Linked DNA regions of Homo sapiens: region 2 is linked to region 1. The links come from fine-mapping of genetic effects on gene expression. A gene starts in region 1. The other region holds a variant in brackets. All regions are shown on one strand. Distances are from middle to middle. Region 1 holds the start of JCAD (junctional cadherin 5 associated). Region 2 overlaps JCAD (junctional cadherin 5 associated).

The links.
Region 2: its variant is fine-mapped to the expression of JCAD in lung (TOPMed, PIP above 0.99).

What each region holds. Positions count from the first base shown.
Region 1 is chr10:30,053,524-30,069,252 of GRCh38, forward strand. It overlaps JCAD (junctional cadherin 5 associated), which reads right to left and starts at 6,063. Exons shown (of 4, transcript NM_020848.4): 1 at 5,959-6,063. LOC101929256 (a long non-coding RNA gene) reads left to right here and starts at 5,315. Exons shown (of 4, transcript XR_001747405.2): 1 at 5,315-5,503. RefSeq lists an enhancer at 3,184-3,721 and silencers at 6,006-6,175, 9,617-9,911.
Region 2 is chr10:30,004,020-30,019,748 of GRCh38, forward strand. It overlaps JCAD (junctional cadherin 5 associated), which reads right to left. Exons shown (of 4, transcript NM_020848.4): 4 at 8,784-13,898. The coding sequence ends at 13,864. Among named protein-coding and RNA genes, the nearest start is that of JCAD, 48 kb to the right of the region's middle. The variant G/A (reference allele first, on the strand shown) is at 7,472.

The DNA.
Region 1 (15,729 bases):
ACTCCAGCCTGGGTGACAGAGCGGATACTCTGTCTCAAAAAAAAAAGAAAAGAAAAGAAAAGAAAAGAATTATTAATATGTAACAAAATCTTTAAACATCTGAAACCCTATGGAATAATCTCACTTCTTAGGATCTGTCCTAATGAAATAATCAGAGATACACACTGTTTTGTATAAGGATAGTTATCCCAGTTTTAATTATGATAATAACAAAATTAGACTAAATGTCTAATTTAGTAAAAAAAAAAAAAATTCTGGGCCAGGTGCAGTGGCTCACACTTGTAATCCCAGCACTTTGCGAGGCTGAGGTGGGCAGACCACCCGAGGTCAGGAGTTCAAGACCAGTCTGACCAACGCAGTTAAACCCCGTTTCTACTAAAAATCCAAGAAAAATTAGGTGTAGTGGCATGCGCCTGTAGTCCCAGCTACTCAGGAGGCTGAGGTGGGAGAATGGCTTGAACTTGGGAGGCAAAGGTTGCAGTGAGCCGAGATCGTGCCATTGCACCTCACCCTGAGCGACAATGAGGCTCCATCTCAAAAAAAAATTCTGGTGCATCCATATAGTGGACTATAATATGTATACACATACATAAAATTATGTTTTCAGGTATACAACAGCACAGGGAAATGCTCGTGATACCACGCTAAATAATAAAGACAGGATACAGAACCCTAGATTCAATGTCATACCAAATTTGTTTATATACATATGTACTTGAAAGGGGAAAAAACACTGAAAGGAAACATACCAAAATGTCAGCAGAGGTGATGGACTCTGAGTTTTTGAAAAATTTCCTTATTTATACTTTACTGAATCTTATGATATTCTGTCATGAAATGTATTAGGTCCAATCATATGAAATTGTCATTTTGCAGGTCAAAAATAGTCAAATATTGGCAATTTCATATACTTACTATACTTAACTTTATATACTTAATATTAACTTAAGTATATATAACAACATATATAATATCCACATTCTTATTATATAATTTAATATAACAATATTGTTTCATCACCAATCATCATTATTCATAACTTAATATATTAACATATTACATAACTTAATTAAGTTATATATAACTATTTCATCATCAGAAAAAAACTTTCATAAATGAAATGCTGCTTAGGTTAGATGAGGAAAATGCATCTTTTTTTTTTTTTGAGACGGAGTCTCGCTGTCGCCCAGGCTGGAGTGCAGTGGCGCAATCTCGGCTCACTGCAGGCTCCGCCCCCTGGGGTTCACGCCATTCTCCTGCCTCAGCCTCCGGAGTAGCTGGGACTACAGGCGCCCGCCACCTCGCCCGGCTAATTTTTTGTATTTTTAGTAGAGACAGGGTTTCACCGTGTTAGCCAGGATGGTCTCGATCTCCTGACCTCGTGATCCGCCCGCCTCGGCCTCCCAAAGTGCTGGGATTACAGGCGTGAGCCACCGCGCCCGGCCGAAAATGCATCTTTAAAAATAGGTTAGGTATTTGGAAGCCTCAATGACAATAAAAGAAACATTGAAGAAAAGAATAAATGAGTAGTAAATCACATAAGGCTCTAGTATATGGTACATGTGCCTTATCTGCCAGAGAGACTCTTAACCTGTTTTCAGGAAGCCAAAATCACATGTGCTGCTGAAGAAATCTAATACAAGGTTACAACCAGCATTCTAAAAAGGTCTTAATTAGACATTGTTACTCCTCTAAAAGACCTAAAACTTTTCAGTTGTATTCACTGACATTCCATGCTTAAGATGTAATTGGTCCCTCAAATTGTTGGCAGTTCAGTGTAAATATCTCTTCAACTGACAACATTTAGGTCTAATGCTATGATTAATATATAACAAAGTACTTTCTTTAAACAAGAGGTAAATCACCAAGACATAAAACAAACCAGAATGGAGTATGTTGCTAACTGACACGTAGGTTTTTAATGCTTTCCACAGATTTTTTCCTAAGGGTAGAATTGTGTATTTTACTATGAACAATAGAATTGCTATTTCCCTTTCCAGTCTTAATTATTAAATAACGCAACAGTCCCAGTTGAAGTCCTGGGACACCAAGTTCTCACAGACTGCTGTTACCATACCACACGTGTGATGACCAACTCTGCCAAGGCAGTCAAGTTGTTAAAATCTCACAAGATGTAAAAAATCATACTTAATCTGTGAAGTAATCATTTTAGGAGGACATCCTTAGGTTTCTTTAAGGTGACAAAAAACAAATGAGTTGGAAAACTTGTGTCTAAGATCAAAAGGACCTTGGAACATTAATCTTGCTGGGGTGGATTGGTATTAAGGCATTTGTTCAAAAAAAGAGAAAGAAAAAGAAAAAAGTCCCCAACATTATGCACTGAATTTTTTTCCTAAGTATTATCCCTTCTGACTCCTCTTTTTTTTCTTTCCACAACTAATGTGAACACACACACATGCACTTACACACACTCTTTCTCCTGTCTTCTCTTTCACCTCTAAATTCTGTGTCACACAATTATTGCTTTGGCTAGCAATATTTTTATGAGACCTTAAGTACCTCATTAACATTTCTGAAAGATTAGAAGTCATTAAGAAAGGACTCAAACTGGATAAGATTTTTAAATCTTTTGGAATTTTTGGCTATTTGCAAAAATAGCTGTAAAACATCATCATAGGTTAGAGTTTTATTCCCTTATCATCATGTATGTCAAGCTCCACATGTAAAGATACCTTAAATATTCCATTAAACTTACCCTTCTTTTGGTTTTGTTTTTAAATATCTTCAGAATAAAAAAAAGCCAAGTCTTTATCAAAGTGTTTGACTTAAATTATTTCATATGATCTTTACATTTCTATTTATTTCCTAAGTACAAAAGTCATGTAAAGTGATTTCAAAAGTAAACACTGCAAAACTCAGTGCTTAAGTAAAAAGGAAAAGTTCCTAGTAACCCCACTGTGCCAAGAGATAACCAGTAGCAACAATCTGGTTTCTGTTTCTCTAACTATTCTTCCTACACAGACAAGTTGCTTGCTTTTTTTTTTTTCTTTCCTTCTTTGGAATGTATCTTGGTGCTTCTTCCTAATAGTATCTAAATTCTTTCATTTACATACAGAAAAAACAATCTTTACAGGTAAACTATAAAGACAACCAATAAGCCCAAAACTATAAGGATACTTCACGATCTGATAACAAATCTGCCAGCCTATTGATTTAACCAGGCTATTCCCAAGCATATCTATAGAAAGTTGTTGGGAAAGATATTTGGTTATAGATAATCCAAATTTTTAACAAGACATCTTCAATTCAAATCAAGATAATTGAGGTTTTAGTATCTGGGGGAGGGGTTCCTGTATTTTTCTAAACACCATTTAGTGTTTAAAGCATATATCAAAGCCCAACACCTCCCCTCCCTGGGCTGCTGGCGTTTGCAAGTCAGTGGACCTCAACATTCCTTCCATCAGCAGGCCCTTGAAACAAAGCACAAGAGCAAGGTTTTAATGAGAGAGATAACCCTTCTCATCCAAAGGAGGAAAAACAACATCTGTTAAAAACCCAAGTAAACTGCAGTAATGGGTTCAGCAATAGGCCCAGAGGACTTCAGAGAGATAGTCTTTGCTTATCAAAATAAAAAACACAATAGAACAATTGTTTCACTCCAACGCTCTGTGTTCTAAACGCTCTCCAGATTAATTAGCATGGAGTTTCGCCAAGCTCATTAAAAGAAAAACTAAGGACTCCTAAGGATGACTGGTGTTTACTGTCCTCCCAAACTGGCCAGTGAGAACTTGGGGGAGCCACAGACTTCTGGGCTTTCTGTACTGATAACATTTCTAGGATTTATTTTTAAATTGCATGTTAAAAATTAGACTACAAGAATCTTTTCATATTTACTTTTTTTAAGTGAAAAAATTGGTCCTTATTTATTTTCCTTGTGTACCTCCAACCCTGCTACATTTTATAGCTGCCGAACAATAGACCACAGGCTTCTGGAATCTGTGACCACTCGATGAGCTATTTGATAACCCTGATGACTTTGTCAAGTCATCCAGAGCATGTGGACACTCAGGCCAAACTTCTTTTTTCCCCGAAACAGGCTTTCTCCACCCACCCAAATCCCCTAATTCTCCTGGGCCTGCCAAGGGCCTGACCTTCCAGTCTCTGCAGCAAAGGGTGAAGTTTTACAGGAGGAAGGCCCAGCAGATTAAAGGCCTCTGTTCAACAAATATTTGCTCGCCCACTCCAGGCGGAGTAACAGTTTCTTACATGCTGCATGCCCACAGTGACACTTAGAGACTTCAGGAAGCTTGTTAAGCTGGTGACTAAGAATTAGACACCTAATGTCAAGGTAAATAATTAAGTCCCAATCCACAGACGTTATGGAAAACCAAACCACTTTAACAAACTCCCAATGTCACACGAAAACCAACACAAGTCCAATGAAATAGAATCTGCATATGATTTCCAAAAAAGCCTGTATGCATTCTTGCTTTGCCGGGTGGTCTTAAAATTCTAAAATGAACTGACATTCCCAAAGTTTTACCTGTACAGCCCATGACCCTCAGTTCACACCATGCAGACTGCCTTTTTTTGCCAGAGCATTTCTGGCTGCCCGAATCCTACCCATCAGGCCCCTTCCCCCAAATCCCTGTATTTTGCAACCCTAGCCCTCAATCTCTGGGTTATCTATTCCTTGTAAATCTGAAAAGACAAAAGACCGGAGAAGGAAAACAAGTTGTGGGAGAAACATCACATTAAACTGTCAGGACAGGAAACCCTGGGAGTTGTGTGGTCTGCACCGCCCCACCCCTCTCCCCAAGACTAAGACCAAGCTACTAGATTTGGGGAGGGAATGAGGACACGGGAGGCGGGTGGAGTGCGTGCGGGGGTGGGAGAGTGGGTGTAGGTGTGGGGAGGTGATGTGCCCAAGCTAATTCCCCCAAGGCCTCTCTACTCCTTAAGCGCGTGGATGACCAAACACCAGGGCATGCCCAGGTAGCGCTGGCCTAAAGTTCTCGTTTTTATTTTCTTCTTCAGTAGTGAAATCACAGCTTCTTTACAAATGCCCAGAAGAATCCCAGGCGCTCTGCTTCTTGACGGAAGCGAGAGGGGCGCTTTTTAGCAGCTAGTGCTGGGCCCCACTGTGGCCAGGGCATCGAGGCAAACCCTGGCATTTTGGGGGTGAACGGACCCCGACTGGAGACGGGGGAAGTAGAGGGTGCCCGCGGAGATCTGAGCGCAGAGACCCTAGGAGGGCGGGTTCCAGATCCCATAAATGAGATAATTAACGGGATTTACAGCACTCCTAGGCGGGGCTCCTGCCCTTCTCCCATCCCACGCGCAGCCAGGAGCCGGGCGGCCCCGGGCACTCGCTGGGAGGCAGCTGCGATTAGCGCCCTAATCCCCAGCGCAGACCGCGCAGAGACCGGAGCGGGAGCGGGGCCGCGGCGGGAGCCCCCCACCGTCCCGGGCAGTCCAGACGGCCGGGGCAGCGTGGGAACTGGGACCTCGGGGACCCAGCGCGGCGGCTGTCAGCTCTGGGGTGAGGTCCGCGAGATCTGGGCGCGAGGGCGCGGGAGGGGTTGGTGGACACAGGCTGGGGAGGGCGACTTCGAGAGGGGAGTGAGTGACCCCGGCCCCCCAGGCCCTCCGCGCGCCGAGGGGCGACGCGAGCGCTAACGCCAGCCGCGGCCCGCGGTGCCCGCCCCGGGACCCCCGCGCTCCGAGCGGGGCACCTGAGGGGAGGGGACGCCCCTCCCGGGCTGGCAGGCGCCCTCCACCCCGAGGCTGCCGGGCTAGGCACCGCGCGGGGGGCCCAGGCGGGGCTGCGACTGGGGGTGCAGACATCCCCCACCGCCAGGGTGGCTGGAACCGGAGCGACGTCCCAGCTGGAGAAGTTGGGGGGAGTGCGGGAGGCTGCGGGTGAGGCCCGCGAAGCGCCGTGGGAGCGGCCCTAATGGACGGTGGGAGCCAGGAGGGTTAGACGCCGGGACTTACCGAGCGGCTCCCTCATGCCGCCTCGCGCCGCCACCGCCGCCGCTCCGGCCGGCCGGGGACCAGCGCGACCCGCCCCGCCTGCAGCCGCCGAGGCCGAGCATGCCCGGAGAACCGCCGTCCGCCCCGCCCACCGCCCGGGCCCGCCCCGCCCACCGCCCGGGGCTGCCTCCTCTGCGCTGAGGGCGGTATCCAGGCCACGAGCTTCCTAGGCTTTTGGGGTCCGCCTGCGTGGGTCGCGCAGAAGGCACAAGTGAGCTGACCACCATTCCCTCTTTTCTTGTCACTTGGGTTTGGGCCACGTCAACCCTGTGGAAATGTCCAAAGACACACACACTCTCACAGATACACAGAAAGCAAACATATTCATATCACACAAACACACAAAGATGTATGCAAACACACTCATATACACCCACACACAGATGCACACAAACACACTCACAGGAAACAGGCGCACACAAACACATATACAGGACACACAGGTGCACACACAGTCACAGACAAGTGCACACACACTCAAATACAGTCACACGCAGGTGCACACAAACACACCCATATACAGTCACGCACAGATGCAGCCAAACACACTGACACATATACATACATACATGGGAACACAGTATGGCTATACACACACACACACACACACACAAACGCACCCACATAACACATCGATATTATGAAGAGCAGAAAACAGTGATGGTGACAACAGCTTGGGATTTACTTCTTTCAAAAAAAAGTCTGAAGGAGTCTGGAAGCCACCTTCAGATCAGCTGGCCCATACTCTCCTGTGGCAGAGGAGGAAACTGATGACAGGAGCAGGATTTGCCTACAGGGCAGGGGTAGGAGGAGAGATAGGAGGAGGTCAGTGGGAGAGTTCAGACCAGAATGAACATTTGGGGTCATTTGGGTAACCCCAAACCCACTCCATATTTCTCTTACAGCGGGAAGGGGCAGAAAGATTAGACTGCTGCCTGGGTCTGCTCAGGGCGAACGTTTTCATAATTTTGGAAGGCAGACAGAAGACAAAAAATGTGAAATATTGCTGATGCATTGGGGAGAGACAGGGAATGTTAGTTAAGTCCACCCAGACAAAACATGGATGGCACAGCAGACTGGTGACCTTGCCAAATTAGTTTTCAGAAAACTACTTAGCCACATCATGATTTTAGGACTGTATTTGCTGTCGAAACACCAATAACTAACTTTTTTTGCTCTATTACCACATCTGAGCCCTTCCTATGTATTATTTCTTTTAATCCTCATCACAGTTTGATGATATGGGCACCACTTTACAGATGAGGAGTGGGCTCAGGGACGGGCACAGATGGCAAGCTGCAGAATCTAGCCCAAGACCCTCGCTCTGAACCACCAGAGCAAGGTCGTTTCTTTGTTCTCTTGAATCATATGTTCCTCATGGTTAGTAGCAACGTATAATCTAACACAGCATAAAAGCTAAACACACTATTGCTGGAAAAGAACGAACAATGTAATTGAATGTTGTATTGTGCATTATCAGGAGTGCGTGGGAGGAAACCAGATGGTGGCGATAGGAGCAGGCAGCATGATTAGGGGCTCGAGAACCAGGTAGCTCAGGTCCCGGGCTTGGCTTCTCTGCCACTTTCTAGATGTGGTACTTTACTTCTGTTAGCCTCACTTTCCTCTCTAACAAAGTGGGGGTAATGATGGTTTGCATCTCATAGGAGAGTCATGAGAATTCAATGAGATGATGCCTTCTTATCACTTAGTTCAGGTACATGTAATAGTCAAGAAAATGGTGGCCGGGCATGGTGACTCATGCCTGTAATCCCAGCACTTTGGGAGGACAAGGCAGGCGGATCACCGGAGGTCTGGAGTTCGAGACCAGCCTGGGTAAGATGGTGAAACCCCATCTCTACTAAAAATACAGAATTAGCCGGGCGTGGTGGCAGGTGCCTGTAATCCCAGGTACTCGGGATGCTGAGGCAGGAGAATCACATGAACCCGGGAGGTGGAGGTTGCAGTGAGCCAGGATCATGCCACTGCACTCCAGCCTGGGCAATAGAGTGAGACTCTGTCTCAAGAAAAAAAAAAAAAAGAAAGAAAAGAAAATAGTAGCTACTACCATTAACACTTGTACAGCTACTGCTGTTTGACTTGGAACCACCAGGGAAGACTTTGAAGGACAAGTGGATTGTGGCTAGGGAGAGACACAAAGGCTGGGAAAATAGGATTCGACAAAATTTAAAAGATAGAAAAGGAAATGCAGACTTTTTTTTTTTTTTCTGGGGAGTCACAGTTATTAACAGCAGTGATATTACTTCTTGTCAAAAAAGCATCATTCGATGATGGATTTCTTCAATGACTTATAGAATTCCTGTTTCTCCTCAATTTGCCAACTCAATGAAATAACTTTGTCCTGGGGTGGAGCACCTCTATGTGCCCAGCATGGTGCAGACACCTAGGGAGCCAAGTATTCCTGCTAGAACATTTATCAGTCAGTGAATTGAGATTAGGATGTGTTTCCCCACAGAACAATGTCATATTGTTGGGTTTCTAGGTCAACCCCATGGAAGTTTTATAATGTACCTAAGGGCTGTAGAGTTGCAAAACAACAGAGTAGGGTTGCAGTAAATCAGAAAACAACACTGATTCAATGCTAGGAGCTAAGCTAAACCAAACCAAATCAAGTTTAATAAGAAATTGTATTTTAGCAGAAAGGCTGGCAAAGGCAGATTCAATTAGGGGAATGTAATGGGATTGAAATACTGGAGATTCTAGAGAAGATGACTTCACAATTTCAAGATGCTTGTAGTTTCTTGACCCTGGCTCTTTATCCTAACATCCTCATTTCAAAATGTTTGGCTTCCGTCTTTCCTCAGTACTGATGTATCCCTAGCCCTGCTCTAATGTTTTCCTGGCATGACTAAGGCCATTTCAAACAAAGAAGCAGAATGAAAAGATGGAGAGAGAAGATGGTGGTGAGGCTGTGGATGTGGGGAGAGGGGCAAGCAGAAAGGTGGAAAGCTTTTCTAAAGATCTGGGAATAGAATTAACAAAGAGGAAAGAGGGTGTATTATTCTATTCCCATGCTGCTAATAAAGACATACCCAAGACTGGGTAATTTATTAAGGAAAGAGGTTTAATGGACTCACAGCTGCACATGGCTGGGGAGGCATCACAATCACGGTGGAAGGCAAAGGAGAAGCAAAGGCGCGCCTTACGTGGCAGCAGGCAAGAGGGCATGTGCAGGAGAACTACTCTTTATCAAACCACCAGATCTCATGAGACTTATTCACTATCACAAGAACGGCATGGGAAAAACCCGCGTCCATGATTCAATTACCTCCCACTGGGTCCCTCCCACAACACGTAAGGACTATTACAACCCAAGGTGAGATTTGGGTGGGACACAGAGCCAAACCATATCAGAGAGTAAGGTTGAAAAGATGCATGAGTATGAGCAGGTGATTAATCATAAATGTAGGAAGATAATAAAGATAAAAGGTAATGAGGAAAATCCACTGGGCCAGTTTCCACACCGGTCACCAGTACATGGACAAGGGATGGTGGGCAAGACGTGAGAGAAACAAGCCTAACCTCCTAATTCCCTTATCCCTACCCACTCCCATTTTCCTGCAATTTGGGTCTCTTGCTTCCACTTACTTGATCTTGGGAGATTTAAACACAGGAAAAAAAAAAAAACTCGCTTATGTGATGTAAAATATAAACTATGATTGAAAACAGCATTTAACATGAAGCTGTTAGAAGTCTGGCACAGCCCTGGGAGCATGTGCCAGGATCCAGCCCTGGATGCCCAATGTCCCCGCCTTTCTTGAGTCCTGGAGAAGGGATTTCACAGACTCAGGAAGGAACTTGGATTATTGAGTCATTGGGCAGATGTGCAGTAACCAGAAAAATAATGTTTAACCGCCTGCTTAAAGAAAGAAAAAAAATAAAAGCCAAGATCTTGTTTCTCTAACTTACTGCCTGTTCAAGGACCTAGAGCAACCCTCCTCCCTCCCTGCTTTAGGGCCCTTCTCTGTAGACTATAAGGTTTCCTTTAGCTGATTTAGATATTGATTTTGTTTTTCTTAGTCTGTAAAGACACTACCAGTTCTCATTTTTTAAAAGATTAACGCTCTTTTAAAAAAAAAATTTGTTGTCTTCACTGACACATAATAATTGTACATATTTATGGGGTACAGTGTGATGTTTTGATGCTTGTATACATTCTGTAATAGTTAAATCAGGGTGTTTAGCATATCCATCTGCTATAGTTTGAATATTTGTTTCCTCCAAAACTCATGTTGAAACTTAATCCCCAATGTGGCAGTGTTGAGAGATGGGATCTTTTTTTTTTTCAAGATGGAGTCTTGCTCTGTTGCCCAGCCTGGAGTGCAGTGTCGTGATCTCGGCTTACTGCAACCTCCGCGTCAGGGTTCATGCAATTCTCCTGCCTCAGCTTCCTGAATAGCTGGGATTATAGGCAAGTGCCATCGCACCCAGAAAATTTTTGCATTTTTAGTAGAGTTGGGTTTTCACCATGTTGGCCAGGCTGGTCTCGAACTCCTGACCTTGCGATCTGCCTGCCTTAGCCTCCCAAAGTGGTGGGATTACAGGTGAAAACCATTGCGCCCAGCCCAAGAGATGGGATCTTTAAGAGATCATTGGATCCTGAAGGTTCTGCCCTCATGAATGGATTAATCTATTCATGGATTAATAGATTAATGGGTTAATGGATTAATGGGTTATCATGGCGGGGAACTGGTGGCTTTATAAGAAGAAGAGAGACATGAGCTAGCATGTGAGCATGCTCAGCCCCTCACCATGTGATGCCCTATACCACCTTAGGTTGACTCTGCAGAGTCCCCACCTGCAAGAAAGCTCTTACCTGATGCAGCCGCTTGACCTTGGACTTCTCAGCTACAAGAAATAAATTTCTATAACTGTAAAAAGTAAATTTCTTTTCTCTATAAATGACCCACCTGCGGGTATTCTGTTATAAGCAATGGAAGGACTAATACGCCATCACCTTATACATTTACCATTTCTTTGGGTTGAGAACATTCAAAATCCTCTCTTCTAGCAATTTTGAAATATACAATACACTTGTTAGCTGCAGTTACCCTTCTGTGAGATAGAACACCAGAACTTATTCCTCCTAAATGAAACTTTGTACCCATTGACCAAAAAAACCCCACGTTCTCTCTTTTTTTTTTTTCTTTTGAGATGGAGTCTCGCTCTATCACCCAGGCTAGAGTGCAGTGGTGTAATTTCAGCTCACTGCAACCTCCACCTCCCAGGTTCAAGCAGTTCTCCTGCCTCAGCCTCCTGAGTAGCTGGGATTACAGGCACGTGCCACCACGCCTGGTTAATTTTTGTATTTTTAGTAAAGACGGGGTTTCACCATGTTGGTCAGGCTGGTCTCGAACTCCTGACCTCGTGATCCACCCGCCTTGGCCTCCCAAGGTGCTGGGATTACAGGCGTGAGCCACCGTGCCCGGCCAAAACCCCACATTCTCGATAAAACCTTGAGGTCTCTCTTGTTGGCTTGTTTTAGAAAGTCAGGCAATAGTGGTTACACAGAAACTGGCAAGGATCTTGTGAGGATAGAGAGTATATTGGTGGGTACCAGAGGCCAGGAAGGGTGGGTTTGGATAAAAAGAAGCTGATTAATACATACAATATACACTTAGAAGAAATAAGACCCGGCATTTGATATATCAGTACGGTGTCTATAGTTAACATTAACCAATTGTTCATTTCAAAATAGCTGGAAGAGAATACTTTGAATGTCCCTAGCATAAAGAAAAGATAAATATTTAAGGTGATGGATGTCCCTATTACCCTGGTTTGATTATATGAATTTATCAAATTATTACATGGATCCTGAAAATATCTACATCTAATATGTATTAAATAAATAAATAAAAAGCTGCCAAATTGAAAAAAATCTAGAAAGGATTTTATGTCAACAAGTGCTAATAACACTTGTTTTTAGTTATTGCTATGCTTTATATTAATTCACAGACTATATCGCATAATTTTTTTTTTTTGACATGAACTCTCACTCTGTCATTGAGGCTGGAGGGCAGTGGTGTGATCACAGCTCACTGCAGCCTTGACCTCCTGGGCTCAAGCCATCTTCCTCCCTCAGCCTCCTAAGTAACTGGACTATAGACACACACAACCATGCCCAGCTAATTTTTGTATCTTCTGCGGAGACGGGCTCTCCCTGTGTTGCCCAGTCTGGTCTTGAACTCCTGGGCTCAAGCAAAGTTCCCACCTTGGCCTCCCAAAGTGGTGGGATTAGAGGCATGAGCCACCATGCCCAGCCCTGCATAATTATTTTTAACCAAGAACTAGAAATCTGTTTCTCAAAGTCTGCTCCATGGACCACCTACACCAGGATCAACTGGGGGAGGGAGAGTTGACTAAAGGCCAAATTCCTGGGCCTCATCAAACCGATGCAATCAGAATTTCTAAGTTCTACCTTTGAGATCCTGGAATGTGTACTTTAAGGAAATGCCCAGATGATTCTCACATACAGTAAAGTGTGAGAAGCAGGGATGGAGCACAATAAATAGAAATGATCTGTGTCAAGAGAGGAATGGATTGATTGACACGTAGTATACAGTGCAAAGACAGTAGCCGTGAACGTCATTGTATGATGATGGAGAGTCACATAGCAACATCCTTCACTAATCAAGTGCATTAGATGTTTACTGTTGGCTTAGAAGATTTGACGCTAACTGAAACAAAACCTACAATGCTGGGGACCAAGAAGAGAGTGACAAACAATTTTTCAATCCTATACCTCCACTGTGAGGAGATTGAATCTGCATAGTTACTGCATGAGAAAAATCATTTCTAATTGTTTGCTCTCCTCGTGTCAGCTTGTTCTCACGTAAAGCCACATATTAATGGAAAACAACTCTGTTACACTCACCGTAGCAAAGAGCTGCTGTTTACTAGTGGTAGAAAGACATTCCAAGCTTCCCCCTGCCTGCAGTTTATAAAATTCTTTGCCAAATTCATAAGGAGGCCTCTTGAGCGGTGGTGCCCTCCAGGGAATGGCAGTGGCTGTCAGGGATCCCGCTGGTACCGGGGGGATGCCAATGTGGCTTCAAGCAGACAGGGGTGTGGCCAGCACCAGAGTGGTCCAGACGTGGGCACCCCTTGGGCTGCCTCTCCCACCATTCCATACCAGCTAATCAAGAATAAATCAAAATTAACTCAAGCATTTTTTAACCCCATATGACTTTTTGTTTTTAAAATGGGAAATAGGCTGGGCTCCGTGGCTCACACCTGCCTCAAGTGACTGAGGCAGGCAGATCACTTGAGGTCAGGAGTTCAAGACCAGCCTGGCCAACATGGTGAAATCCCTTCTCTACTAAAAAATATGTGCTTGTAGTCCCAGCTACTCAGGAGGTTGAGGTACAAGAATCACTTGAACCCAGGGGGCACAGGTTGCAGTGAGCCAAGATGGCATCACTGCACTCCAGCCTGGGCAACAGAGTGAGACCCTGTTTCCAAAAAACTAAAAAATAAAAATAAATGGCCAGGTATAGTAGTACATGCCTATGGTTCCAGTTACTCAGGAGGCTGAGGTGGGAGGATTGCTTAAGCCTAAGAGTTCAAAGCTACAGTGAGCCATGATCATGCTACTGCACTCCAACCTGGGCAACACAGCAAGACCCTGTCTCAAAAAAAAAAAAAAGAACTATGCAAATAACTGTGAACTACATTAATTGTAAAAAGAATGCCTCCATTTGGGGAGAGAATGGTGTATCAGGCTTTTATTAAGTCAGTGATGCCTAGCAATACAAGGTGGAAGGGAGAGATGAGAACTACCTTTTTTCTGTTTTTTTTTTGAGACAGGGACTTGCTCTGTTGCCCAGGCTGGAGTGCAGAGTGCAGTGGCACGATCTCGGCTCACTGCAACCTCCGCCTCCCAGGATCAAGCGATCCTCCTGCCTCAGCCTCCCTAGTAGCTGGGACTACAGGCATGTGCCACCATGCCCAGCTAATTTTTTGTATTTTTAGTAGAGACAGGGCTTCACCATTTTGGCCAGGCTGGTCTCGAACTCCTGACCTCAGGTTATCTGCCCACTTTGGCCTCCCAAAGTGCTGGGATTACAGGCGTAAGCCACTGCAACTGGCCAAGAACTATCTTTGTTTTAATGTTTCTTATGTGCCAGGCACTGGGCTAGGCCTTGACTTATGTCCTTCGATGTACAAAAGGGTAGCACTTACTAGCGGGGTTGTATGGTTTTGAAGTACAGTCATGCATCACTTAATGATGAGAATACGTTCTGAGAATTGTGTTGTTAGGTGATTTCATTGTTGTGCAAACATCCTAGAGTGCATGTACACAAACCAAGGTGGTGTAGCCTACTGCATACCTAGGCTACGTGCTATAGCCTATTACTCCTAGGCCGCAAACCATGCAGCAAGTGACTCTACTCAATCCTGCAGGCAATTGTAACACAGTGTTATTTGTGTACCTAAACATAGAAAAAGTACAGTAAAAATACAGTATTATAATCTTATGAGACCACCATCATAGATGTGGTCCATGGTTGGCTGAAGTATTATGCAGTGCATGACAGTGGTCTTCTAGTTAAGTGTAAAAGGATGTACGGCCGGGTGCGGTGGCTCAGGCCTGTGATCGTAGCACTTCGGGGGGCCGAGGCAGGTGGATCACCTGAGGTCAGGAGTTCGAGACCAGCCTGGCCAACATGGCAAAACCCCATGTCTACTAAAAATACAAAAAAATTAGCCGGGCATGGTGGCAGGTACCTATAATCCCAGCTACTTGGGAGGCTGAGGCAGGAGAATCTCTTGAACCCAGGAAGTGGAGGTTGCAGTGAGCCAAGATTGTGCCACTTCACTCCAGCCTGGGTGAAAGAGCAAAACTCTGTCTCAAAAAAAAAAAAAAAAAAAAAAAAAGAGGATGTAAATCTCCTGTGAAAGAAAACTTTCCATTTCATTAGTCACCTGCCTCCCTCAAACTCCCATCACACATGGAAGCTGCTGGTGCAGTACTGCATTTATCAGGGCATATCTTGGATTTGCTTACATGATACTTGGTTCAGCTACTGGATTCCGAATACCTGGTAGAAGACACTGTTCATCCCTGCCCTAACTGTGTTTTCTTAGTTTGGACTTAGTTTGTTTATTTGGCCTTCATTAATCACAGGGCCAAACTAACAGCCAAGGTTACTCACACCTCCCCTGTGATCCAGAGCCTGCTCTCTCAACCACCTCCTTATCTGACTCTTTCACAGCAAGCCAATATTTTCCCAGCCCTGAATCAACCCAGGGCTAGGTCCCAGACAACTAGGGATAACTGTGTCCCAAAGCCACTGGAATTATTCCAACTGGCCAATCCTAGGCTCTTTCCCTTGTCTCTCCTTGCCTTTCCTGTGAAAATCCCAGTAATGGCTGTGGCCAAGGCCTTCTCACTCCTTTCTGCCTCCTGATCAGCACTGGTGCTTACCCCAGGCTTTGCATGGCCTGAGGTGCCTCTTGTTTATAGGGCAACTGTGAGTAACTTTAATCTTTGCTTTCAATAGCATTGGCCTCTCAGATGTCACTTAGTCACCTTTATAAATTATGACCCAGGCACAAATCAGTTTTTCCGTTGACCACAGCCTGGCACCATACCTTTGGACAGGTAGATGAAACATGTCTGTTGAATAGAATTTTTGAATACCTCTGAAGTGGAAATGGTCGCTTCGGCTCACATTGTGGAAATCCAGAGTGGGGAATCTTCACCATAGGAGT
Region 2 (15,729 bases), 50 kb before region 1:
TGGCTAATTTTTATGTTTTTAGTAGACACAGGGTTTTGCAGTGTTGCCCAGGCTGGTCTTGAAGTCCTGAGCTCAAGTGATTGCCCCCCTCAGCCTCCCAAAATGCCGCATTACAGGCGTGAGCCACAGTGCCCGGCCCACACTCAGCAGTTTAAAAGAATAATAAACAATTACTGTTTCATGTTGTTTCCATGGGCCAGCACAGAGGAGTAGCTGAACTTGAGGGTTTGGAGGTCTCTCAGGAGGTTGCATTCAAAATGTCAGTGGCTGTGGAGGCTCCACTTGGGCTTGAAGATCCATGTCCATGGGGGATCATTCACAGGGCTGGCAAACTGGTGTTGGCTGTTGGCTGTTGGCTGGAGGCCTTAATTCCTCACGATGTGGGTCTCCCCACGGGAGTGCTGGAGCGCCTTTACAACATGGCAGTTGGCTTCCCTAAGAGCACAGGTTGGAAGCCATAGTGTATTTTATGATCTAGATTCAGAATTGGCACACCATAATTTTTGCAATATGCTAGGTGATTATAAAGTTCAACCTTATTTATTTATTTTTTTACTGTAAAAATTTTTTAACTTTTTAATTTTTTGAGTACATAGTAGTTATATATACTTATGGAGTATATGAGACATTTTGATACAGGCATATAATGTGTAATAATCACATCAGGATAAAGGAAGTATCCATCACCTCAGCATTTATCTTTTTTTTTTTTTTTTTTTTGAGGTGGAATCTTGCTCTGTTGCCCAGGCTGGAATGCAGTGGTGTGATCTCACTGCAATCTCCACCTCCCAGGTTCAAGAGATTCTCGTGCATCAGCCTCCCAAGTAGCTGGGACTACAGGCATGAGCCACCATGCCTGGCTATTTTGTTGTTGTTGTATTTTTAGTAGAGAGGGGATTCACGGTGTTGGCCAGGCTGGTCTCGAACTCCTGACCTCAAGTGAACCACCCACTGTGGCCTCCCAAAGTGCTTAGATTACAGATATGAGCCACCTCGCCTGGCCCACATTTATCCTTTGTGTTATAAACAATCCAATTATACTTTTTTAGTTATTTTTAATTGCACAATTAAATTATTGTTGACTATAGTCACCTGGTTGTGCCATCAAATACTAGCTCTTATTCATGCTGCCTATTTTTTGTACCCATTAACCATCCTCACTCCCCCCCTCCCTTCTATCCTCCCCAGCCTGTTAACCATCCTTCTACTCTCTGTCTCCATGAGTTCAATTTTTATTTTTAGCTCCCAGAAATACGTGAAAACATGCCAAGTTTCTCTTTCTGTGCCTGGCTTATTTCACTTAACATAATGACCTCCAGTTCCATCCATGTTATTGCAAATGAAAAGATCTCTTTATTTTTTATGGCTGAATAGTATTCCATTGTGTATATGTACCATGTTTTCTTTATCCATTTGTCTGCTGATGAATACTTAGATTGTTTCCAAATCTTGGCTAGTGTGAATAGTGCTGCAATAAACATGGGAATGCAGATATCTCTTTGATACACTGATTTCCTTTCTTTTGGGTATATATCCAGCAGTGGGATTGCTGGATCAAATGGTAGCTCTATTTTTAGTTTTTTGAGAAACCCCGTAACTGTTCTCTATAATGGTTGTACTAATTTACATTCCCACCAACAGTGTATGAGGATTCTCTTTCTCCACATCCTTGCCAGCATTTGTTACTGCCTGTCTTTTGGATAAAAGCTATTTTAACTGAGATGAGATGATATCTCACTGTAGTTTTGATTTGCATTTCTCTAATGGTCAGTGACATTGAGCACCTTTTCATATACTTGTTTGACATTTGTATGCCTTCTTTTGAGAAATGTCTGATCAGATCTTTTGCCCATTTTGAAATCAGCTTATTAGATTCTTTCCTATAGAGTTGTTTGAGCTCCTTATATAATCTGGTTATTAATCCCTTGTCAGATGGTTAGTTTGCAAATATTTTCTCCCATTCTGTGGGTTGCCTCCACTTTGTTGATGGTTTCCTTTGTTGTGCAGAGGCTTTTTAACTTGCTGTGATCCCACGTGTCCAATTTTTTTCATGCAATACTTGTTTTTTTATAGTAAATACAGATAAGCAATCCATTCATACCTACATACCCATAACCCCAATTCCAGAAGTCATTATTGTTAACATTTTGGTGAAAACATATCCAGGTTTGTTTGTTCTAAACTTTTGTTGTACTATGGTGTGGACCTCCTGCTCTACCAAAATAAAATAGCGGACCTGGTGTACCCTGCCTCCCTGTTTTGTCTAATACCTAGACACAAATTTGCTTCAAAACAAATATTTATTGATAAGTCATGTTATTGATATGTGCCAGGAATTTTGTTAGCCCCTGTGGATTTGCGAGACAGACACAGTCCAAACCCTCCAGACACTGTTGCCTAGGAGGAGGGGACAGTGACATTTGATACTTTCAGCACTCTCCATTACAGTCTTTACAGTGGTATGAAGGGGAAGCCTAAACCAGAACCGCCTAACCTCACCTGGCCAGGTCAGGGGAGCTGCTGCGGAACGTGAGGCTCAAACAGACATGGCAGATGAATGGAAATTGACAGAAGAGAAGGCGAAGGCCAACCAGCACAAATGACTGGCACACACACCGGCGCCAAGATAAAGGACCCAGAGGAGAGCTGGTGGATGGTCCATTGTACTGTGTCTGAAGACACCTCAAGTGGCTATGGGACCACTAGCATTAAAATCACGTATGTACTAGTTAAAAATGAAGTGTTCTGGCCCCCATGCCGGATGCACTAAATCAGCATCTTTTTCTCTTTTAACGCGTTCCAGGCACTGGGATACAAGTTGAAGTTTGATAGCCAAAGCCCTAGAGTCTCCATTGCTTGTGTGTAATGGCCGGGGAGCTCTTGCAGTGCAAGTCTTACAGGGTCTTCCAGAACCAGCTCAGCAAGGGACTCCACGGGAGGCATGGGGGACAGGCATATTTGCCGAACCACAAAAAGCAAATGAATGAAGGTTAGTTACCATATTTCATCAACTGCACGGGCACTTTTTTTTTCTCTCACATTTTAACTTCTCTGAAATTGGAATGCACTTATAATCAATGGCAAGTAGTAATTTCATCAATAGCCTTGTCTTCCTTTTTTGGAATGAAGCAAATAAAATGGCGTGCCTTCTGCGTGATGAAATACAGCAGTTGTCTTCCCCCACAGTCCCCCAGGCTCTCCTTCCTCATCGAGAAGACCCACCGAGGGGATAGTCTACATCCTTCAGAATATTTGCTGCCATGTTAATTTGTACTGCATGAACTTTCTCCTTGGACACAATTTTGCCCCTGATATCTTTCATCACTTTCTTCTGGCACCTGTTTCATTTTTGCCTTTAGTCACAGAGTCTCGTTTAAAAAAAAAAAATTGAAATCTGTTCCTGGGGTGCGTCTTCTGGATTTATAGAGGTATCTCTATAAATAAAAATCTCAATAACCAGGAAACTGAGTTCAGAATGCTTCCTCTGCAACTGAGACCAACTGAAAGAATGAAACAGAAAGGCAGAGCATTCAGGAGTGAAACTTGATATCTGAACAGAGAGGCCTGTTCTGGAATTTCCAAGGCTGTGGGCTCCATCTCGGGCAGGAAGGCAGTGACAAAGGCCCTTCCTGGGGACTTCCTAGTAGGATGCAGGGGTCTGTGTGGTTCCATCCCTCTCTGTGTCATCTAGTCCTAACCCTTCCTCTTCCCCGACCCCAGTCTCACCCACCAGCTGCCCCTGCCCCAGCTGCCCTGATGGTTTTCTTCTAAAGATGTTAGGACCCTCATGTACAGCCTCTGCCTCTGCAGAAAATGGGAAGAGCCTCCTCTGCAGAGCACACAATGATGGATGAGGTCTGCTGTTCCTAGAACCCAGAAACTTGGCATCTAGACCCCTGTGTTTGCCATTCACCTCTTCTCATGTATCCCTATTATGAACAGCAAGGGCCACTGTCCAGGCAAAGTCATTTCCTCTATGGAAGGGGCATCTCCCAGGAATGTGAGAGTTTGCACTTGACAGACCCTGGAACTAAATTACACAGACAACTGCTTACAGATAACCCTCTTGGCCTTGTGGCTGCTCCCTTGTTAAACTGAAGGCACTACTAACCCGCCCCCAACCTTTTTTTTTTTTTTGAGACAAAGTCTCCCCGTTGCCCAGGCTGGAGTGCAGTGGCACGATATTGGCTCACTGCAGCCTCAAACTCTTGGCCTCAAGTGATCCTCCTTCCTGAGTCTCCCAAAGTGGGGGGATTAAAGATGTGAACCCCCCTTTTCTTTGGGGCAGCATGTTTCATTTTTTGGTGAGACAAAATCATCCGTGCTGCCTTTGAGGTTCTGGTCACATCAGTTAGTCACAGAGACACGGGACACACACAAGCTGCTTGGTATTGCCGTCTAGTGAGCTTCCATCTGCCCTGGGGCTAATGCTCAGCTCATTGGTGGGTTAATTGTGTCAGGGCTTGCCAGTTGCCAATCAATAACTACTGTAACTCTTTTTTAGCAACAGAACTTTGATCTTATTTAGAACCACAGCGGCGCCCAGTTAAGTGGACTACATTTCCAAGACTCCCTTGCAGCTTGACTATGTGACTGAATTCTTGCAGATGGAATACAGTCCTCCTGGGGTATGCAGGCAATTGGTATCAGGTCCCTGAAGGACACCAAAATCCATGGATGCTTAAGTCTCTTGTATAAAATGATGTAGTATTTGCATATAATATTTATATGTCCTTCTGTAAACTTTAAGTCATCTCTAGATTACTTATGATAGTTAATACGATGTAAATACTGTGTAGTTATTATACTGTGATAGTTGTATTCTTAAGTTGTTGTATTGTTATTTTGTTTCTTTTTCTTGATATTTTTGATCTGCAGTTGGTTGAATTTGTGGATGCAGAACCTGTGAATGTAGAGGGCTGACTGTATATGCAGAAGAGTGTAGGACTTCCTGGAAGTCTCTTTAAAGGAAGCTAACTCATCTGGGAGGATAATTCTTCCTCTTGTCAGCTGCCTAGAAAGTGTCCAAGATAGCCAGTACTATAGCAGCCATCTTGGACCATGAGGTTACTTGCCTTCAGGATGGAAGCCATTGCAAGGATGCTGGAAAAGAAAGATACAAGGAATCCAGATCCCTGATTGCCAAGGAGCTTCCGTGCTAGCCCTGGACTGCCTGTCTCTGGGCTCCTTTGAAGTGTGAGAGAGATAAGTTTCCACTTCACCTAAACCACTGCTATTTTCAATTTTCTGGCATAGGCAGCTTAACCCAATCCTAACAAATGCATTTAGCATTGTAAGAGTGTTACCTTTGAATTTCATGACTAAATAGAGGATCATTCTGTCATCCTCCTAGGATATAACAAGCTAAAAGGAGCAGCATGGATGTTGGGGTTAACGTGAATAGGTCTGAATCCCTGCTTGGCTGCTAGCTGTGTGCTGCAGGCAATAATTCAGTCTCTCTGTACCTGTTTTGTCTCCCACAAAATGGTGTGCATTAAATTAATTAATGCATATAATATGCGATGCCCACAGTAAGGAACCAACAATGTTAGTTTCCTTGTCTTCCCCTCTTCTTCATGTTGTGCATTTTATTTTAAATACTTAAAAAATTCTAGGTATACGTTGAGTATCCCTTATCCAAAATGTTTGGGACCAGAAGAGTTTTGGATTTTGGAGTTTTTTGGACTTTGGGATATCTGCATACACATAATGAGATATTTTGGAACACAAGTCTGAACAAAAAAAAATTTTTTTTTTTTTTGAGATGGAGTCTCACTCCGTCATGCAGACTGGAGTGCAGTGGCCTAATCTCGGCTCACTGCAACCTCCGCCTCCCATGTTCAAGCAATTCTCCTGCCTCAGGCTCCTGAGTAGCTGGAATTACAGGTGTGCACCACCACACCCAGCTAATTGTTGTATTTTTAGTAGAGGTGGGGGTTTCACCATGTTTGCCAGGCTGGTCTTGAACTCCTGATCTCAAGTGATCCGCCCACCTTGGCCTCCCAAAGTGTTGGGATTACAGGCATGAGCCACTGCGACCGGCCAAAACATGAAATTCATCTATGTTTAATACACACCTTAGGTACGTAGCCTAAAGGGAATTTTATATAACATCTTAAATAATTTTGTGCACTCATCACATGTGGTCAGGTGTGAAATTTTCCACTTGTGGCATCATGGCATTCAAAAAGTTTTGGATTGGCCGGGCAAGGTGGCTCACGCCTGCAATCCCAGCACTTTGGGAGGCCGAGGCAGGCAGATCATGAGGTCAGGAGATTGAGACCATCCTGGCTAACATGATGAAACCCCATCTCTACTAAATATACAAAAAATTAGCCGGGCGAGGTGGTGGGCGCCTGTAGTCCCAGATACTTGGGAGGCTGAGGCAGGAGAATGGTGTGAACCCAGGAGGGGGAGCTTGCAGTGAGCCAAGATCACGCCCCTGCACTCCAGCCTGGGTGACAGAGTTAGACTCTGTCCCCCCCACCAAAAAAAAAAAAAAAAGTTTTGGACTCTGGAGCATATTGGTTTGGGGTGCTCAACCCGTAAATGCAGATTTGGGTTTATTTCCACACAAGCTGAGCCTGCTATCATAAACTCAGAAATATGCCGGTGGGGCTGGGCGCGGTGGTCATGCCTCTAATCCCAGCACTTTGGGAGGTCAAGGCAGATGGATCACTTGAGATCAGGAGTTCGAGACCAACCTGACCAACATGGAGAAACCCTGTTTCTACTAAAACTACAAAATTAGCTGGGTGTGGTGGCGCATGCCTGTAATCCCAGCTACTTGGGAGACTGAGGCAGGAGAATCGCTTAAACCTGGGAGGTGGAGGTTGCAGTGAGCTGAGATTGTGCCATGGCACTCCAGCCTGGGCAACAAAGTGAAGGTTCATCTCAAAATATATATATATATACCAGTGGAGTTAGATTAGGTAGAAAAACCCATGGTTGGCCGGTGCGGTGGCTCATATCTGTAATTTCGGCACTTTGGGAGGCTGAGGCAGGCAGATCCCCTGAGCCCAGGAGTTTGAGACCAGCCTGGGAAACATGGCGAAACCCCATCTCTAAAATTAAAAAAAATTACAACAAACAATCACGGTTAATGTACAGGACAGAGTGGGGAAGTCAAGGGAAGAAACATTGACCAGGGTCTCCAGAATAAATCTCATCTAACTCCAAGAAAAGCTGGGCTTTCCAGCAGAAACCAAACCAGAGGCATATGGGCTAGCACTCAGTTTCCCATGGAGTTTTGGTCCCCAAAACCCTGAGCAACGTAGGACTGTAGGACTGGCAGCTTTTCCAGCCAGTCAATTGCAAGCTGACCACTTGGGGAAACACTGCTGTGTGGGGTAGAAGCAGAAAGGCGATTTAGCTGGTGAGACACAAATATCTCCAAAACTAAGTGTATTTAAAAGGACCCCAGCAGCCAAATAGTGAGAAAAGCAGTCTATGTGGGTGACTGCAGATTAAT[G/A]CCTTGGGCTGACTGCCCAGTTTATAAACATCCTAGTGCCCTGCCCTAACGTAAGAAAAATATGTCAGGAGAATTCAATATTGTCAGTCCCTTGGCTGGGCCATAGCGACGGTGATGGGGAGATGCACGATAAGTTACTGGAATGGGGGAAGTGGACCACCCTGGTGAGAGAAATAATGGCAGGACTCCCACCCTGGCCATGACCCAGTCCGCAGTCACGTACAGACGTAGTTTTCCAATTGTTTTACTCTTGAACCCTTCTGGCAGGACAAAAGACCCTATGGACGTTCAGGTTTGCCAGAAAATAGTTATATAAGCTTAGAGTTGGAAGAAACCAGCTAACTGAGCTCAATCTCCCTCTCCACTTACAGGATGAAGTGTTCCAGGGAAAGGGGGTCAATGTCACAGCTAGTTAATGGCAGAGCCAGGCCCAGGATGAGTCCCCCAATTCCTGGGTTGTGTGTTTCATCTTCTAGCATTAATGTGGTCAAGGGATTTTTTTCAGTTATATTTTAATATGTGGATTAACTTATCAACCAACTAGGGGATAGTCCTTACTTTAAAACACACATCTTAGTGTGATCTGAAATTTCATACTACTTAGAGGGCCCCGGGATACTCAAGCTTTGGGGCTCTGCACATGTGGAGCCAAGGAAGAAATGAGGAAAACAGCTTACAAAAGCTTACAGGAGAGAGAGGAAGCCTACACTGGAAAGAAGGACCGTGTTTTTAAAAACTCAGAAACAACAGCTTAGAGGTTTATTGGTCTGACAATAGAAACGATTGGAGAGTATGATGTTGCACTGAGTCTCCCTCTGCTTCCAGAATAGCCCTACAAGACAGAGGCCTGGATGGTAAAACCTACAACACTTCCAGGCAAGTATTTTCCCCAGAAGGCACTGCTCTAGCTTCATTCTCCATGCAGTCAACACCCACAATGTGCTGGAGGTTCTCTATATATTGGATTCTTATGTTCCTTTGGTAGGAGAGGCTGGGGAGGACACAGAAGCCAGGGATGTGATGTGTACAAAGTCACATGGTTATTGATAGAGTCAATATTCACACCCAGTTCCCAAATTAACTCTAGGCCTCTTTCCACAATGTCAGTAAGCCTTGGGGGAGATGTAAACAGGAGCTTTAACTCCCGGGAAATCCCAGTGGAGACCAAAGGTGCTGGAACCCTGTGGGCTACCTGTCCCTGCATTACCCACACCATCTGAGCTGCTCCCCGTGCAGCCTGCTGCCCGCCCTTCAGGAACCAGCCTCTAGGGCAGCTCTTGCACCCACAGTAAAAGACAACGGACATAGGTACTTTCATGCAAAATCTTTATTTGGAACATGTATGTTACTGAGCAGGCCAGCCGCCATCCTGAAATAGCAAGGATATTTACACTGTGCAGAGAAATACAAGAGCTTCTTGAAGACATTCATCTGTGCTTTGCCGGCATTTTATCTGCTACTTTGTCCTGCTTCTCTCTTCCCTGTGCTCATTATTCTTCATGCACCCTCACCTCTCATCACCTTAAGGCATCCTGTACCAGCCTGATCTGGGGGCGATGACTGCAGCCGGCAATCGGCCATTACCAATGGTGTCTTTCTGGGACCCTTTCTACCTGTCTTAGGTATTAATGGTGCCCAAAGAAAAAATGAAGAGATGAAAGTTTCTGTGGTTAGCTGGGCATGGTGGTGTGCACCTGTAGTCCCAGCTACTAAGGAGGTTGAGGTGGGGATAGTGCTTGAGCCCAGGAGCTTGAGGCTGCAGTGAGCCGTGACTGCACCACTGCACTCCAGGCTGGGCAACAGAGCAAGACCCTGTTTCAAGGGGGGGAAAAAAAGTTTCTTTGGAGTTGCAAGGCCTTGTCTTCACTAAATTTTAGAAGTCCCCCCGAGATGTTTCTGCTTAACTTCTCTGACAGGCCTGACTGTGAGGGCTCGAATTTCAGCTGACCTAGGTGGAGAGTACTTCATTGATTTTTATAATCTGGAAATGACTGCTTTTCCCCTTGCTGGGACATATGGTTTTCATTTCTGTTTGCTGCCATATGCTTCTCAACTTGAACTTGCCTTTGTCTCCTTGCTCCGTGACAATGAATGTCTCACATCTCGGCTCTGCTGCGGGGCAGGGGTGAAGGGAGGTGGAAGAAAGAAGAGATGGTCCTTTGGCTTGGTTGTAAGCCCTAGTAGGGCCTGTCTTTCATACGGAAAGGGTTCCTCCTAACCCCTATCAAAGCATGGGGATGAACGGCCAGACAATCTGGGCTTGCCTTTGGGTTTAAGTTTCAGTCACTAAACAGAGACCACAGAACAAGGACCTCCCTGTCCTCTGCTGTATTCGTACACACAAGTATCGCAGAGGCTTTCCAAGGTCGATGCCAGGAATCTGCAGGAGCCTTGGCTGCCTTCCCACACTGCTGATGAACCAAGGACTGTTTCGACAGGCAGGTTGCTAGCCCACATCAACCTTTTCAAGAGGCCTCAATCTGAATTTATGGTCTTAATGACTCCCTTTTTATTTCTTTCCAACAAAACCTGCAGGCTGGAGGCCATTCTTCCTTTAATGTTATTTTATCATCTCCCCCTTCTTAGTGTGGTGGGTCCCAGAGTGGACCAACCCACACTCCTGGAGAAGGACCTCCCGCCATGCAGATTCTTAAAGGTCACTGGAATGTGTCTCTTAAATCCTGTCCTGAGTAGCAACTCTCCTCCCACAGACAGATGTACAGAATCTGCAGTCAAAAACAAAACAAAAAGAAAATGCAAAAATCCCCCAGCCTGCAACAGCTTCGGCTTAAGAAACACACTCCCACCCCACATCCCGTCTTTTAAGCTTCATCTCCCCTGCATAAATGGGTCTGGTAGAACAATGCTCCCCAACGCTAAAGTAATTGCTTCTAAGAACTTAGGACATGGGAAATGTTTCTCTAAGCTCAAATATGGATAGAAAGACAATTCTGCTGCACTGGTCACTTTGCAAGAGATGCTATCCTGACATTTAATTGTGTATTATTTAATCATTTAAAACAAACAATAATAAAAAACTCAGCCAGAACACGCAAACGTGATCTCTGGGGGTCACAAGATGAAATGGTAGGTGAATGTTATCTTCTATCAGCCCCTTTTGCCTCCGAGTTGGGAAAGTAGTTGTTTCAACAGATCAGCTTCATCCTTTTTCTTCAGAAGCCCCAAACCGAGATGCTGTCAGAATAAGTCATTTTGCTGCTGCAAAAAATGATCACAGTCTGGTTTCTGAGTCATCTGAGTTTTAAAACGTAAACTTCCATTAACAACGGCCCTTCACCAACAGTAAAATGGGGCAGCAAAAGTTCTACTTAGAATTTCCACGTGAATGAAACCCGCAACCTACAACTCTGCTAAGGAAACCAGGATCTCAAAGAACAGATTCATGTTTTAGGGACTTTAAAAGAAGAAATCCAAGCAGTTATGCACATGGACATAATCCTGAAAACCCAGTCAGGGGCTGGGTGCACTGTCAGTGAGGAGTTTTTCTGTACTTTGCAGAAACATGAGGTTGAAAGTGATAATATAGATATTTGGTTTTCAGTCATTCAGAAATTTTCTTCAAAGAAAGGCAATTTGAGCTAAATTACCATCATTTTCCCTTCTTTTGCAAATCAAGAAATACTAATCCATTGCATATGTAATCCCTCATATAATTTTTAGCCCAAATGGTCAAAATTACAACTTTTAATTTTATGAGCTCCAAATTATTAAACACCAACAGTAAATTGTGTGCATGAGAAGAACAAAGACAAATACAAAATATAGAAACTTTTTCTTCCAGCCACAAAAAACGAAGTTATGTATGTATGAGAAATAGAAACAATAACTAAACAATTAGTGTTAAATTCAAGACCTCTGGGAAAGCTGTTGTTGGTTATAGGCTATTATTTACCTTAGAATATGAAAGTTTAAAGGTCAAATTTTCAAGTTAAACTTTTCAAGTTACCTTCCCCCCAAAAAAGATTTACATGTAGGCTTAAATTTAGAACAGTTAAAGTATAAATGTTGAAAATTTCAACTTAATTCAGAATGGTTTCAGAAAGATATGATACAACAATTTAAGATAACAAAACAGAAGCGCATCACATTTTGGTTTGAGAATCACAGAAGGTACAACAGTTTTTCTTCCTTGGGGATCCTTCTCTTTCTCTTGAGGAATGAGCTAAAATTAAGTTATTTTGATTCAAAGAGGTATTTAGATGGTATCAACAAAATTTCAGAGGAAATCAGAACGGAGTTCATATACATGTATGGGTATGTGTGCATACATGTACGAGTATACATGTGCACGTATATAAATGTATATACACATATACCTTCTTACGTTTGCATTTAAAGAGGGAAGACCCCACAAAGACCTCCAGGCGCCTCAGCCCTTATTTGGTACTACCAGGTGACTTCAATGATTCACCAGCTACAACAGTGTCTGAACTCTTCCCCACTCAACTTTTCCTGGGAAGAGGATCTTTTTGTTTCCCGCACTTATTGCTGCTGTGAAAACTGGAGTGCACTCTCACTTTTCATAAGAGCTGAATTCTGGACTGCAGATAAGTGTTTTGAAAAGGCTTGGAAAGATTTTTCGGGGCGACTTAGGTTCTGTTTTGTTTGTTACAGTCCAAATACATAAAGTTATTATGAAATAAAATCATACGGTACAGATGAGAACAGGCCGGGACAGCCCGGCCAGCCGTTTTAGGGCCAAAGGACAGATCACCCAACGGTTCACATTTTAGGAATTCGAAATGTCTAAAAATAGATAAGGTGGTTTCTCTAAAAGAAAATAAAATGAAAGAGAAGGGGAAAAAATAAAAGGGAAAAGGAGGACAGGGTGAAGGAAGGAGGGCAAGAGGTAGCAAGGGAGGGAGGACAGAAGGAAGGAAGAAAGGAAGGGAGGGAGGGAGGGAGGGAGGGGAAATGATTTAGGGAATGTTAGTTGTCAGGAATACCTTACTTAGAAAGAAGGAAAAAAATGCATGAAAAAATGCATAAACTTTGTGCAGGTTAATGCAGTATTAAACACAGTAGAATACATAGGCCTCATAATGCTTTTGTAATGGCATATATATAATGTCCCCAAGCACTTTCTAAAAATATGCAGAGACTAATTCAAGATCATTCTAGATAAAAATACGTATTTCTTTAAAGGGGTGGGGTGGCAGGGTGGGAAGAAAAGCATGGTCTCAGGGTAGATCCCCACACACATACAAAGATAAAACTATGTTTTTTGGTAATTCTAGTTGATACGGCAGCAAAAATTGTCATGACAATGTTGGCTGGTTTTCAGAGGGTTATTTTCAAATATAACCTGATAGCTACACTTGTACAAAAATCTTTGTGAAAAGTTTCTTTTATTAACCCTGTGATATGTCTATATTGACATTTTCTAAGATAAAATAAAAGTAGCAGAGTTGTCAGTGGGTAAGGGACAGAGCTTTAAAGCAAAAGTGAACCCTCTTTGGGTTCCTCTCACACAAAGGGATACAGACTCTTAAATAAAATAATACTTCCTTAAAAATCTGCCGCCTAACAATTGTTTACATCATAGAAAAATAGCATTTTCGTAAAAAGAAATATAGTCACTTTGTTAAAATGGTCTATTTTAAACCAGCAATTATTTTTCATATAAAGAATTTCTAAATACCCATACAGAAAATAAAAATAGATAATACTGAGTGCAAAGCAGACAATGGCGTGTTTGCAAATGATCAAAATATTTCACTGCCAGATAAATAATACTCTTAGTATATTACAGTACAAGTTTTAATTTTTCAGGAACTTAAAAGATATTGCTTTTATTCTCTGATGGCAAGTTACTTATAAGTAAAGTTACTTCCAGCAGCAGAAGGCCAAATTGATTAGAAATGGATCATACCTATTGATTCACATTTCCCCTAAACTGAAAGTGCTGAAACACCGGGCAACAGCCAGTGTCCCAAACTCCTTCACAAGAGCATGGACTGCAGGCCATGGAGACACAGAGGGGAGCACACCATTCACAGGCCTTTCCAAAGCATTTGCTAGATCTTCCACATTGAAATCTTCACCCAGAATGAGAGCAACACCAAACTATTTACCAGCTTAGTCAAATCTGTCATGAGGGAGGGTTTCTGTGAAAACTCCTTCCTAATTATAGGCATTAAATCTTCATGCTATAAAAACAGATGGTTTCAACGGACGATTGCTTTATCGCCACAAAGCAATTCTGAGAGGATGGCAAGTTTCCTAGTGGCAGTGGTAAAGAATGTTATCAGGATGCTAAAAACTCAGCAGCTTCCAGCTTCTACATGGGGAAGTGGGGCTGATAGACTAAATCTACCAGCTACTTGAGAATACTCAATTCGCAACGGAATGCAAGCTCCACCGGCATTTCATCACACCCTCTCCACTCTGCTAGGGTCATAGGAATCTGTAAAATAAGAAAAGAAAAGAAAATTAGTGTTATATTCAACTGCTCTATTTTCTGTTTAATCCTTAGACCACGAATTTGTCTAGGGAACAAAATCTACAAGTGTATAAAGGTTAATTTTTAGACATTTTAACAATCATGTTTTCACTAAGGAGTAAAAAACTATTTGTCAAAAAGGCTGTTTTCAAAGAATTGTGCATAGTCATTACCCAAACACAGATGGGAAAATATGAACTGCTGAATACTTCGGCGGCTCCTTCCTGTTCACCGTGGAATATACTTCACTTTAAACGCAATGTTTCCAAACTGGCAGTGATGTGTTTGGCTGATATTAAGGTAGATGTCTTATCTTTCTTTCTTCTTCTTCTTCTTCTTCTTCTTTTTTTTTTTTTGGTAAATTACAGCTCAAAAGAAAGCTTGCTTTAGAATACGCATCTTTGTGATCAAACGCTGTCCCTTGAAGGCGTGAGGATCCTCAAATCCTGACTGCTTGGCTGGCAGAGAGAGGCTTTCTGTCTCTCATCACCACTGACCACTAGGCAGCCCCAGGGCTGGATGCTCACCTGTCAGCGCAAGGCTTCTAGAGCCTTCTAACACAGGTATGTACGAGTCTGGCCCCTCACGCACTGATCCATTCTACTGCCGTCAATGGAAAAATCCCAATCTGTGCCCAGATGACCTGGATTTCTAAAACGGGACACCATACAAAAGAGCAATCATCCTAAACTGCCACTACTGCTGCTGCTGGGTGCTGCCAAGTCCCACAACCTCCAATTCACAGATGTCTGTCTGGAATCCAGACAAACCTAAGGCTCACACGTGCGCCTCCTGTGGTAAGATTTTCCTGCCATAGCAGCTCAAAGGCTTCTTATTTTTTAAAGAGAAAATGTCTAAGCAATCTGGAAGGAGTACAGCCATTATGGAAACATTATGGAAGTTCCTCAAAAAAATTAAAAATAGAACTACCATATGATCCAGCAATCCCATGACTGGGTATGTATCCAAAGGAAAGGACATCAGTATGGAAGAGATATCTGCACTGCAGCATTATTTACAATAGCCAAGTTCACTGCAGCATTATTTACAATGGCCAAGATAGGAAACTACCTAATCATCAAGGTTTTCATGACTGGATGTATGGATAAAGAAATTATATAGCCGGGCACAGTGGCTCACGGCTGTAATCCCAGCACTTTGGGAGGCCGAGGCAGGTGGATCACCTGAGGTTGGGAGTTCAAGACCAGCCTGACCAACATGCAAAAACCCCATCTATACTAAAAACACAAAAAATTAACCAGGCATGGTGGTACGTGCCTGTAATCCCAGCTACTCGGGAGGCTGAGGCAAGAGAATCGCTTGAATCCAGGAGGCGGAGGTTGCTGTGAGCCGAGATGGCGCCATTGCACTCCAGCCTGGGCAACAAGAGCGAAACTCTGTCTCAAAAAAAAAAAAAAAAAAAAGAAAAAAAGAAATTGTATATACACACACAATGGGATATTATTCGGCCCTAAAAGATAAGCAAATCCTGCCATTTTACAACAACATGGATTAAACTTCAGGACATTATGGTAGTCAAAAAAGCCAGACACAGAAACACAAATACTGCATGATCTCACCTATATGTGGAATCATTTAAAAAAAAAAAAAAAGTTGAAATCACAGTAACAGAGAGTAGAAGGGTGGTTGCCAGGGGCTGGGGTGAAGGAAAAGGGGAAATACTGGCCAAAGGGTACAAACCCTAAGCTATAAGATGAGTAAGTACTGGAGACTGAGTGCATAGGATGGTGACTTTAGTTACTAATGCCATCATGTACACTTGGAATTTGCTGAT